Linked DNA regions of Homo sapiens: regions 1 and 3 are each linked to region 2. The links come from fine-mapping of genetic effects on gene expression. A gene starts in region 2. Each other region holds a variant in brackets. All regions are shown on one strand. Distances are from middle to middle. Region 1 overlaps ZBTB40 (zinc finger and BTB domain containing 40). Region 2 holds the start of C1QB (complement C1q B chain). Region 3 has its middle 2.5 kb from the start of MIR6127.

Evidence for each region. PIP is the estimated chance that this variant, and not a neighbour inherited with it, causes the effect. A credible set is the group of variants that fine-mapping cannot tell apart.
Region 1: its variant is the best candidate, but not a certain one, in a credible set for the expression of C1QB in whole blood (TOPMed, PIP 0.61).
Region 3: its variant is the best candidate, but not a certain one, in a credible set for the expression of C1QB in whole blood (INTERVAL, PIP 0.84).

Annotation. Positions count from the first base shown.
Region 1 is chr1:22,518,835-22,523,074 of GRCh38, reverse strand. It overlaps ZBTB40 (zinc finger and BTB domain containing 40), which reads right to left. Exons shown (of 18, transcript NM_014870.4): 14 at 2,800-3,014; 15 at 1,417-1,579; 16 at 612-698. Among named protein-coding and RNA genes, the nearest start is that of EPHA8, 43 kb to the left of the region's middle. The variant T/C (reference allele first, on the strand shown) is at 1,908.
Region 2 is chr1:22,650,807-22,655,046 of GRCh38, reverse strand. It overlaps C1QB (complement C1q B chain), which reads right to left and starts at 1,811. Exons shown (of 3, transcript NM_001378156.1): 1 at 1,744-1,811.
Region 3 is chr1:22,628,782-22,633,021 of GRCh38, reverse strand. No RefSeq gene overlaps it. Among named protein-coding and RNA genes, the nearest start is that of MIR6127, 2.5 kb to the left of the region's middle. The variant A/G (reference allele first, on the strand shown) is at 2,048.

The sequences.
Region 1 (4,240 bases), 130 kb after region 2:
TCGGGAGGCTGAGGCAGGAGAATGGCGTGAACCTGGGAGACGGAGCTTGCAGTGAGCCGAGATCGCGCCACTGCACTCCAGCCTGGGTGACAGAGTGAGACTCCATCTCAAAAAAAAAAAAAAAAAAAAGGTACATCTTATTTAGTCGAGCATGGTGGCAGGCACCTGTAATTCCAGCTACTTGGGAGGCTAAGTCAGGGAGAATTGCTTGAACCCAGGAGATGGAGGTTGCAGTGATCTGAGATCGCACCACTGCACTCCAGGCTGGGTGACAGAGTGAGACTCTGTCTCAAAAAAAAAAAAAATAAAAATGGTATATCTTATAACTGGAATTGTATTTATTTATTTTTAACTGGCACTTTAGATTTGATGAGTATAGCAATAACAATGACAATCACAGTTACGGCTTAAGGGATGCTTATTGATGCCAAGGCCTTCAGTTTTTCACACTACTCTATGAGGCAGGTGCTACAACTGTTCCCATTTTATAGATGAAGAAACCGAGGCACAGGTTTGTTAAGCGATTTAGCCTAGGTTGCAAAGCTGCAAGTGGTGGAGGGGAGATTCAGGCCCCGAGTCTAGCCTAGAAGTATGCTGACAGGGGTACTGACCTGAATGCTGGCACTTGACATGAACCTGCAGCAAGGCTGGCGTGGGGAAGAGCTCCTTACACTGGTCACATTCATGGAACTTCATATCTGTGAAGTGCATAAAGAAAGACGTGCTGGGAAAGAACAAATGGTTGGCTCTCCAAGGCTGAAGAGTAACAGGGCTGGGGTTGGGGCGATGGCCAATACTTAGCAAGCATCTACCAAGTGCCAGGAATCTTATAACCTATGGTATATTTGTACAATCTAGTGGTAAAGAGCATGAGATCTGGATCCAGACTGCCTGGATGCTCAGAGGGATGTTGTGAGAATGAAATGAGAAAATATACACGAGGTGCTTAGCATGGTGTCTTGCACATAGGAAACACTCTGTAACTGACAGCTGTTGTGATTATCACCAAATTTACCTGCAAAGTAGGTTTTAATAACTGCCATCCTGGAGAGAAGGAAACAGGCTCAGAAAAGGGAAGTCACTTGCCAAGGTCATGTAGCTGATAAGTGCTGGAATCAGGATTTCCACTCAGGCCTGCCTACCACTGAGGCTGACACCCTTCCCAGGTGCCCCAACAAGCTCTCACTCAGGGCTGGTGGGAGCTTACACTGCGCTACGCTTCCAGGTTTGAGAACCACTGCCACTCAAGCTGCTGCTACTGACTGCTGCTGCTACGGACAGGTGCGCTGGGGCAGAACAAAGGCAATGACCACTGCACATCACACTAGACTATTAGAAGTGGGGATTTCTGGTGGGGCCCAGGAGGCTACACCATCAAGCCCCTCCCGCTCTCTGCCGGCGGTACCCAAACTCCACCTGCATGTTCTGCTTTGATGTGCTTCTTGTGCTCAATGGTGTTGGGGAAGGTTTTGTCACAGGAGCTGCACTGGAGTGATGAGAACTTGGAAGATCGGTGGTTCTGAGCAGCAAATACGTCAGGGTGGTGGGTTCGATTGTGGTACCACAAACCAGACAATTGCTGCAAGGAATTTGGCAAGTGTTAGGTCTTAGAAAGTTCCAGCAAGCTGGAGAGCTCACGAGGCTCTCATGAGAGAAAGAAATACATTTTTGGATAAGCTGACGTTTCTAGTATCACACACTCTTACCTATCACACCGGGTGCTGATGTGAGGAAAGCCTGGTGTTTGTGAGAATAAGGCAACTACATATTCATTGAGAAGCCACTACAGGGCAGGGCTCCCAGGAGTCCTTCACATGCCCATTCCTTACAACAAGCCTATGAGGGAGGTGTTAGAGTCTTCCTAGCGAGCTGGAAGCGGAGACACCGAGGGGTTAAATGACTAATCA[T/C]AACATCAGGAGATAGCAGGACCAGGATTCAGGCCCAGGCCTTCCAACTGTAACACCTGTGTGCTTTACCAGTGAGCTGCATCTCACGGCTTCCCAGGGAGCTGGGGCACAGCCGAGCAAGCTGCTGGAGGAGTGCACACTGCCCTTGCCCCATAAGCAAGAGTCCCTCTCCTTCCCAGGTTCCAGAGCAGCACTGGGAATACTTTCCCTACCATTCCACGCCATCCTAGGGCTCAAGCCCAGGTCTCCGTTCTGGAACGCTAATGTCACAACATGAGCGTTGGCACAAAGTTAGCTCTCAGTTTTTGCTGAGCTAAAGTTAGCAGTTATGCTTCTTTGTCTATACCCAAATCTTATAGATGCCACAAGGACCATTCTTTTCTCTGTAGTTTTAAAGCTTCTGACAGATGCAGTTTCTTTTTAGTTCTATATGGGGCTTCACTTTAATTACATATCAAATCCTAAGGTAAAAAGGCTGAGCCCTTCCCTGTGAGTTAAACAAACACAAACTAATTGTGCCAAACAAGGTAATTCCAGGTAGTGTTCCACTCCCCATTGCCGCTGTCATGCCCATTGACACATGGGAGCAATGGGTTCTATGGAAGGTGAGCATCCAAGGGGAAAAGCAGCATTAGTTCACGACAAGTCTGCTGTCTAAGAGAAGAAGCGTATGAACTCTCTGCTCCAATAATGAGCTCCCCCACTGCAGCACTCCGACCAGATCTCCTTAGAGAATCTGGATCACAAGCTGCATCCTTCATGAGAATCAGCCAATTGTCACATCCTGGATACAAGATATGATCTGCAAGCCACCAACCCGGGCATCAGGGAAGATCAAATGGAGAGTAGGTCAGGGGTGAGGGGAAGAGCTCCCAGTGGCACCTGAGGTCACCTGGTAGGCCTTGTTGCAGATCCCGCAGCTGAAGGGCTTCCCTCCAACGTGGGTCACCACGTGCCGCTCCAGCATGGACGGGGCACTGAAGATCTTCCCACACGTGGGGCAGGGGTGGTACTCTTTGGAGTGCACCTCATGGATGTGCTTCCGGTGATCCTGAAGAGTGGGGAAACTCATCCTGCACTTCTTGCAGTCATAAGGATCTTCTATGTCTAGTTTCACGGGACATCCATGAGAGGAAGAGGTGGAGAGGAAAAGAAAACACCATAGGCAGCCATCAGTGAAACACTGGTTGTTGTGTACAGCAACAAATGTGAAGACTCTGCTTTACGTAACAGGCAGGGTCATAGACTCCAAGGATCAGAAATCAGTGTAGCAGTCACCTGACTACCCCCACCTTCATCCTAGGAGGTGGGATTCCTCCAGGGTTTCAAGACTAACTGTCTCTGCAGCATCATGTAGTTCATCTCCATTCCTCATTTTACATCTTTCAAGTTAAATTACACTTTATCACTTTCCAGGGAGTTTCACCCTGGCTCGTCCGGTTTGCAGTGGGCATTCTGGAGTTTTCTAATTCTCTGTAGAGGATTTCCAGCACACTCCCCAGAGCATCACTAATTCCTTTGTCATCAACAGCACAAGTGGAGGGATGCTTCCTTTCTCCCCACTTTAGATTCAACAATAAAAACATTAGCATAATGAGTGCTCTATGACAGGCATATTCTAAGTGCTTTATGTAAATTAACTCACTTAATCCTTCCAATAACTCTATGAGTAGGTTCTATTATCATCCCTATTTTACAGATTAGGAAAATCAAGGTTTAGAGTGGTAAGGCAGTATCTTGCCCATGGGCATAATTAAGAAATGGCTGAACTGAGTAACAATCCCATCTCTCACTCCCAAATCCATGCTGTCTGAGAGCTACATGCTTGATTGGATATGCCAACCCTTCAGTGAGACCCCCACAATAAAACTAGTAGTGATGAAGAATACATTTGCCATCCTATGGCAGGAAACTTTGGTCTTTTTCTTAAAGCAACAGAAATCAAAATGTTTTAATAAAATCCTTTGCTCACAAGCCAATCTTTTATGTGCATTGATTCAGATTAATTCAGGAATTCTGACATGCAGCAGCATTCGGTATCACTAACTAGTTTCCCTGTGGACATGAGCTCTTGAAATCTCAGTTTTACACCATCTTCTAAGACACTTTGATGCAGCTTTCCATAAGCAATGATGTGGTTCTATGAAACAGGCAAGAAATGGGAGAGAGAGGGGGGCCTGGATGCTAGGCCTGCCACGGATGATATAGTTTAGGGTATGGCAAAGTATTCTGGGTCTTCTCCCTTCTGAAAGTTAATAACGTCTTCCCCTTTCCTGACGCCCAGGTAATGCTACTGGGAAAGGAAGACTAAAGCAGAATGTCATTAAAGAGGT
Region 2 (4,240 bases):
CAGAGAGGGCAAGCACCTTGATAAAAGTCACACAGCTCCTGTGTGGCTGGGAGTCAAACCCACATCCACTGGATCTTAAAACTCAATGTTATGTTAAGAGGCCACTGTACCTGGTGGTAAAAACATAAACTTTGAAGCCAGACAGCCTGATAAAAGGACTAATGCATGGGACACACCAAGGGTAGTGGTAGGCACATGGTCAGTGTTCGGTGAAAGTGGCTTTTTACCACCACGATGATTGCTGCTCTTGTTAGGCAGCACACATTCACCTGGTGGCGGGAGCCTGTAGTGTCACAAGGAAAGCAACACTCAGCGTTCACATAAGGTCTCTACTGCTTCTTAGCTAAGGGACTTGGGAAATCACTCCTTCTCTCTGGCCACAGTTTACCCTCCTATAAAGTGGGGATAATGCTACTCTCTCCCTCATAGGGTATGTGCGAGGACATGAGTTACAGCTTCCAACAGAGCCTGGCATGTTGGAAATTCTTAATGAATATTAGCTATTTTATTATTATCACTGTCATCCAAGAATTCCTGAGTGGTTGAACAGAAGGGAAGATGGTTGGAGAAGTAAAAAAAGACAATCCCTTTGAAAGACTGTGTTTAGAGGGAGGGGCTCTGTCAGTTGGAGGCAGCAAGGGGTGGAGAGCTGTGACCAGTTGGTGGGGAGAGAGGGTGGGGAGCAGGGTACTGACAGGACTTGGGCTTCCTGGGGAAGCCAGGGGCAGGGGGAGTGGGAAAGTGCTGGTTCTAGCCCATTTCAAAAGCCACCGAGTTTCAGCCTTGGGTTAGGGCTTACAACTCATCTGGTTTAACTGCCTCCTGCCTGTGCCAGCCCATCATCATTGCCAGCGCGGTTTCTCCTGTCCTCCCCCCAGGCTCTGACCTTTCCATCTCCTTCGGTCCAGCAGTCCCTTTCCGCAACATGGAGTCAGGCCCACTTGACTTTAAAGCCCCATCTGCTACCGGCTGCATAACCTCAGGCAAGTGCCTTAACCTCTCTGAGCCTCTTGGCAATGCTGATTTCAACCTGACAGGGCTGCCAGAAGGATGACAGGAGAAGGCGCTTAGAAGAAATAAGGTCCCCCCTGCCCCGTGCAGTGCCACATCCCACTCCCCAGCTGCACAAACATTGCGCTCACTCAGTACTAGCTGAGAACTCATCGTAACTCTACCTGCACATCCCCTTATTTCTTTGGAAGAGTCAAGCTGAGCTTTCTCAGCGAGTATGAGGAAATAAGCAAGGTGTTGGGGAAATGCTGGGCCGGGCAGGAGCGACTGGCTTATAATCCCACTCCTGCCTCTGGTTTACTGATAAATTTTGAGCCAGGGCATGCACTAAGCTTTTGCAAGCTTGATCTCCTGTAAGGCACAGCAGTGCTGAAAGATTCTGTTCTCTGTAGGGGGGCCGGGCTGAGAGAGGTTAGGTGACTTGCCCAAGATAACCAATACATAAGGTGCAGAGCCAGACTCAGCTCAAGTCTCTGCGATGCCAAAGCTCCTATGTGCCAGGCTCCCGCTTTAGGTGGCCTGCCCATCCGCTAGGCCCTGGGTAGCAGCAGACTCCCCAACTCACCCCAGAGATCTGGGTCCCATAGGTCTGGGATTGGGCCCAGCTACCTGCACTGTTAAACAGCCTAACTGGCTCCGAGGCAGGTGACGCAAAGCTCACACTTACGGAATCACCACTTTCTGCCATATTGGCCCTGCCAGCCTCCCCCAGGCGCCAAGCCCCGTCCTCACCTGGGAAGCTGGTGTCCTGTGAGGCCACTGGGCTGAGCAGCAGTGGGACCAGGAGCCGAGAGCCTACTGCCCTCGGTCCGAAGCGGAAGTTCCCTTCCCCAGAGGCGGGAAGGGCTTTCCCCTGACGGTCCCCTCCCATGGACCAGCAGGCTGGCCCCTTTCCCGTCCCCTCACTGTCCCCCCACCCTGCTGCCCTCAGGCAGTTTCAGGTCCTATTTCTGCAACCCACTGGATTTACTGTAAATGAGACGGGTGGGTGGCAAGTTTGGTTCTGCCAACTCAGCAGCTGTGGGGAGAACACGCTGTCCTGGGGGAACATCCACAGCTCACCCTCCCAGGCTCTCTGACCTCGTGATCTTCTTCTACACTGGGCAGGGGTGTTCCTCAGTGAGCATCATGTGGCGGGCCCGCTGCCTGAGTGCTGGCTTACAGTCAGAGCCTTTGATTCCAATCCCGCCTCTGCCACTTGCCAGTTGATGTGTTGTCAGTCAAGGGAGCCCCAATTTTCTCTGCTATAGGATGGGACCATAATTGTACCTGCTCTACAGATACAGATCTCACAGGCCACTGGGAGGATAATGGAGGAAATGATGGGGGAGGAAGTGTCTGGGGGTAAACTGTAAAGGGCTGTGCACGTGTTCATTGTTAATATCACTTCATGTCCCAGGCTTCCCCTTTCTGGGCTCATCTCTTCTGCTTCCTTCCCATTCTGTGCCCCTGCTCTTTCCCTGTTCTCAGAAAATAATCTCATAATGAATTTTAAATGTGTTCATTATTTATTGATACCCCTCCCTCTGCTTCCAGCAGGGCTGGACGCTGATGACAATAATAGGCCCAGGCAGGGGCCTGTTGCTTCTTCTCGATCCTGGAATCACGCCAAGTTAGGGCCGGAGAGGGGCTGAGGTTACTCGGCCCATCCTCCTCATTTTATATACGAGGAAACTGAGGCCCAGAGGGGAGACCCACCATTTAACAAATATTTAGTGTTTGCTTCCATGTGCACTGAAGAGAGAGCTCTTAGCAAATCAGCCATGGTCCCTGCCCCCATGGGGCCTCCCTTCTACGGGGGGAGACTGGTGTTAAACACGGAATGACATGAGGCTTCATTGCTTCTGTGATAAATGTCACAGAAAGACGTGACTGCTGGGGCCGATGCCTCATGGAGGTGGCAGATGCAGACCTGGAAGCCGGCATCCCTGGCACTAGGATATCAGTCTCTCCCTGTGGCTGCGTCTCAGACGACATGATGACTAGCAAGCACCAGGAGCTGGAGGCCCTCTTGACATCTGTGCTTGGAGATGGAAATTCACTGGGCTTGTGGATGCAGCTTGGTGGAAATTAAGTGTTAACTGCAATGGGTGAACAGGAGGGAAAGATAAGTTTGATAAAACCAAAAGGTCTCTGAGCTCAGTCAACTATAGTCCCGAAGGGACCCAGGCTAGGGTGAAGAGAAGAAACACTGGATTCCACAAAGGGAGAAACGAGTTAGTAGGTTGCAAGTTGAGGGCTTCTGAGCATTCCCAAAGCCGAGTGGCTCTGGGCCTCTAGTTCTTTTTTTTTTTTTTTTTCTTGAGATGGAGTCTCAGTCTGTTGCTCAGGCTGGAGTGCAGTGGTGCGACCTCAGCTCACTAGAACCTCTTCCTCCCAAGTTCAAGCGATTCTCCTGCCTCAGCCTCCCAGGTAGCTGGGACTACAGGTGCATGCCACCAAGCCCAGCTAATTTTTGTATTTTTTTTTAGTAGATACAGGGTTTCACCATGTTGGCCAGGCCGGTCTCAAACTCCTGACCTCAAGTTGATCTGCCTGCCTCGGCCTCCCAAAGTGCTGGGATTACAGGCGTGAGCCACCATGCCCAGCCTCTGGGCCTCTAATTCTTAGGTGGCTAAGGGCAATGGGAAAAGATGGATGTCAATTTGGGGTAGAAGCAGTGAGGCTAAGAACAGGAAGCAGCAGAGGTGGGTTAGGAGCACGGACTTTGGCAGTTTGAATCCCAGCTCTTCGTCTTGCTAACTATGTGGCCACGGGAATGTTTACTGGCCTCAGTTTCCTCGTGTAGAAATGGGAAGCATGAACGCCTATCTCCTGGGGCTGTTTTGGGGGCCAGCGAGGTCCCCCTGCCATGTCCAGGGCCAGGTGAGTGCCCAGCCCTTGGTGGGCACCCACTGCAAACATGGGAACGGTATTACTTATATGAAGAGAAGATGGAATTCTTGGAACCCAGGAGCAAAGAAGCCATGCCTGGATTAGGAGGAGGCCTGGACTTGGGGATCAGGAGCTGAGGGGTCCCTGGGCCTTGACCGCTAATGGGAGCCAGCTGGTCTCTGTACCTACAAAATTTTGGACTCACATCCCTGATTGAGAGTGGAAAATCCCTGATCCCTGCAAAGAGTGGAAAAAGAAACCTACACCCCCTCACCTTCCTGTGGTTGGAAAGGGGTTCCTTGCAGCTTGGGGTGTCTTGTCCTGGCTCCTGCCCCACGTCCACCCCTCCTTGCCT
Region 3 (4,240 bases), 22 kb after region 2:
ATCTCGGCCTCCCAAAGTGCTGGGATTACAGGCGTGAGCCACCGCGCCCAGCCCAGTATCCATCTTCTTCTTCTTCTTCTTCTTCTTTTTTTTTTTTTTTTTTTGAGACAGTCTCACTTTGTTGCCCAGGCTGGAGTGCAGTGGCTCGATCTCAGCTCACTGCAACCTCTGCCTCCTGGGTTCAAGAGATTCTCCTGCCTCAGCCTTCCAAGTAGCTGGGATTACAGGCGTGTGTGCACCACCACGCCCGGCTAATTTTTGTATTTTTAGTAGGGACGGGGTTTTGCCATGTTGCCCAGGCTGGTCTCAAACCCCTGACCTCAGGTGATCTGCCCATCTCGGCCTCCCAAAGTGCTAGGATTACAGGTGTGAGCCACCGCGCCCGGCCCAGTATCCATCTTCTTTGACTGCATTGCGTCAGCCCTGCTTGCCTGCCAGAGGAGTTAGAAACATGACATGCCCGAGGCAGAAACGCCAGCCCTGCGTGCCCTATTTTACTCTGAAGACACAAAGGACCAGAGACAAAAAAAGACTTGCCCGGGTCACACAGACAGGGGCAAGAGTTGGCAAGAGGAAAAATCAGATACTGTGAAAAGCTTCTCAAAGTCTAGTTTTCAAAATATTGAATACCCAGTTCCTATAGAAATACAGTGTGGGAATGTGTCAGTGTCCTCTTGTAGGTTGTTAATGGAGGAACCAGCTGGGTGACAAAGCTAGTTCAATGGATATGGAAAAAAATATATATGTATACCTATATATGGAGACAGAGAGAGTCAGTTAAAACAACAAGAATTCTGGAATATTCATAAAATTGCTAAATTAGATACAAAACTGGTTAGTGTTCTATAGGGCAATAAAATCATCATGTTGGGGCTATCTTCTCTATTGAAAAGAAATCATTTGCATCTCTACTAGACAAAAATAATTTGCAACTTAACAGTTTTCTACCAGTTAACAGCTATCTTTACTGAATCTGGGCTCTAATCAATAGTAAATAATAAGTCAAGCCAAGTGACATTCCCCTAGAGTGTCAGATGACCCTTAGCAGGGTTTGTTAGATACAGCTCTCATTTGACTTTGAAAGGACACCGGTTATCTATTTGCCTTATTTCCAAGTGTTGGATGATTTTACTTATCAGGCTGTTGCAAGAGTATAAACACTTCCCAAGAAATAAAAGACATCGATACTAATGCGCATATCATTAGTGTGAGAAATAAAAGGGTCAGCAATGGCCCTGTGCATGTCACAACAGGGACACCTTCAGGCGGAGAGGAAGGGCATATTCTTCCATTTCTCCAGAGCCCAGACTCCTAGACGGGAGGCAGGAGATGTGGGGAAGAGAGGAAATTCCTAGCCATGCTTGCACAGTTATGATCCATGAGGTTCAGTCTCAGAGTGGGATCAAAGGTCAAATAAATAACCAAAAAATAATTTTTAAATGACTTGAATTCTTTATGGCAGTCACATCCCATTCAAGGGTTGTGTTGCAAAATCGGCATACGAGGCAAACATTGTAAATGGTGAGTATCACCATTGTAAATGGTGGAAAAATTCTTCAAACAGCGCCACGTGAAAGACTGTATTACCGTTTCACAATAGTCTTTTGCTGTCAGTTTTGGCTCCAATAGTAGAACAGATTTCTTTTTCTTCAGTTGAGTACCAGTTGGTTAAGGTTAACCAATTCCCCCACCACTCACACACAAAGGAATTGAATCTTTGGAGACTGGAGCCACCCTTGGAGGTGAGGTGTTTAGATCATGAGGGGTTCACAGGAGCGGAGGCAGACTTGGGGACAGCAGAACTCTCCCAGCCACGGTCCCTCCAGAAATAGGCTCTTAGAAGACAGTATCCCCTGGCTGGGAGCAGTGGCTCACGCCTGTAATCCCAGCACTTTGGGAGGTCGAGGAGGGTGGATCAACTGAGGCCGGGAGTTTGAGTCCAGCCTGACAAACATGGATAAACTCTGTCTCTACTAAAAGTATAAAATTAGTTGGCCTAGTGGCACATGCCTGTAATCCCTGCTACTCGGGAGGCTGAGGCAGGAGA[A/G]TTGCTTGAACCCAGGAGGTGGAGGTTGCAGTGAACCAAGATCAGGCCATTGCACTTCAGCTTGGGCGACAAGAGTGAAACTCCGTCTCAAAAAAAAAAAAAACCAATATCCCCTGCCTTACTTAAATTGTGATTCTCTCTCTGAGTCCTATTAGGCGAAGTGGAGATAGGCAAGTGTGTATATAATGCGACTCTAAGGTGCTTGTATATTTCTTTTAAAAAAAATGAGGCATAATTTGCACAGAGTAAAATGTGCACATCTCAAGCACACTGCTCAGTAGCTTACACCTGCACGCACAGGCCCTCTACCACCACTCAGATCAGAGTGCAGAGTATCCATCTCCCCAGCGAGGCGGCCGTGACCCTCCAAGTCAACAGTGCTCCCCTCCACCCGCAAAGTAACCGGTGTTCTGCTCTCCCTCACCATTGGTGCCTTCTGCCTGTTCTTGAACTTCATGTCAATGGAATCATGCGGCCTGTGCTCTTTTGTGTCTGGCTTCTTTTGAAGAGCATGCCGGTGAGATGCATCTGTGTTACGTGTGTCAGTTTGCGTGGTATTGCTGAGTGCTATTCCATCGTATGCATATGCAGTATCACACTTTGTTTGTCCCTTCTGTTGGTACAGAGTTTGGGCTATGATGAATAAAGCTGCTAAGAACATTCTGGTGCAAGTCCTCTGCCCCACCCAGCCCTGTGAACAGATACACTCAATTCTCTGCTGTACATTTGAACACCAGGAAGGAGGCATAGAGTTGACACCAGTGCTCTTTGCTCTTTTCCATCCACTCCTCCAGACCTCTGTCTTCAACTTCCTGTCTCCAGCAAAAAAAAAAATCTCCCGGCCCCTCTGCCCAGAGCCACTGTTCCTCCTTCTCCCTGACTCTCCTGCTCTCTGTTCTTTATTATGGAGATTGTCTTAGTCTCGCCTTTCTTGCAAAACCCTCCTTCTGGGCCTTTTGGGGTCTATCCTTCCATTCTTTGTCCCCACCACCCAATAAGATCAGGGTTTTGTTAGCAAGTGGTTGGGGGAGGCATTTGGAATTGGGGAGGGAGCTGTTGTGTGAGAGAACTGCCATGTGTTGTCTGTGCACACTCTTTATTCTTTACTTTTCTTGGCAGATAAAAGCACTTCTTGGGATTATTTTATGAAACGCAGAGGGGATTGTAAACAACAGATCATTTGTTGCGGAGATGGAGGCAGCATGTGTTCAAATTCAGTGTGTGTCTCTCTTTGGCTGTGTGATCTTGCACGAGTAACCTCCTGTGTCTGGGGCTCTAGCACCTCACCTATAAACTGGGAATGATGACCTCAAACTATGCCAGGCTTCCAGACAGTAGTGCGGCTGGTCTCTGGCACACAGTAGGCTCTTAGCACAATGTTTTACCTCCTCCTACTCTCACCTGGCACTCAGAGGGCCGGTGCATGAAAGAAAATTTGGAAAAAAAAAAAAAAAAAAAAAAAGAAGACAGAAAAGATTTATTGGCAGGGGAGAGTGAAGAAAAATAGGAAGAAATAAAGCCCCCCAGCTGGAAGCCAACACCCTGAATGCCTGTGAGGGAGGCAGCCCAGCCCGGAGGGGAACTGGGTGGAGCTGCTCTGGAGACATTCCCCACAGGCAAATATAGCCGGAAGCCACCAGGCAGGTAAGATGTAAAAAGATTAAGAGGACTAAGAGTTTGGAAAACAAACAGATCGGGCTGTGGGAGCCAACAAGGAGGTATTACCTCCACCTTGAGAGGGCTGGGCCTGACGTCCAGGTTGCTGGGAGATGCTAGCTTCCAAGGAGCTCACATAGGCATGAGGGTCACAAGAGAGTGGCCAGGGAGAGCCTGGAGTGCAAATGATCTCCCTCATCTGCCCATCACAGGACCTGAAATTCCTCCTGTAGTCATTCTTTCCACAGGGTAAGCCTTGTCCTCTCTGGGGTGTTTTGAGGTTGATGCTTCACCGTGGTATGTTTGCAAGATGCTAATAGGCTCTTCCTTGTGAGCCCTACTGAATGCTGGACTTCCTACTGGGTGCTTAATACACGACCTCACTTCATCATCAGAATCCCCGGGGAGGTGGCATGGTGACAGTCCCTTTTACAGATGAGGTAACTGAGGTTCAGAGAGGGTAAGTGACTCACACAAGGTCACACAGCCGGTAAATTGAATAGTTATTTATTTATTTATTTATTTATATTTGGGCAC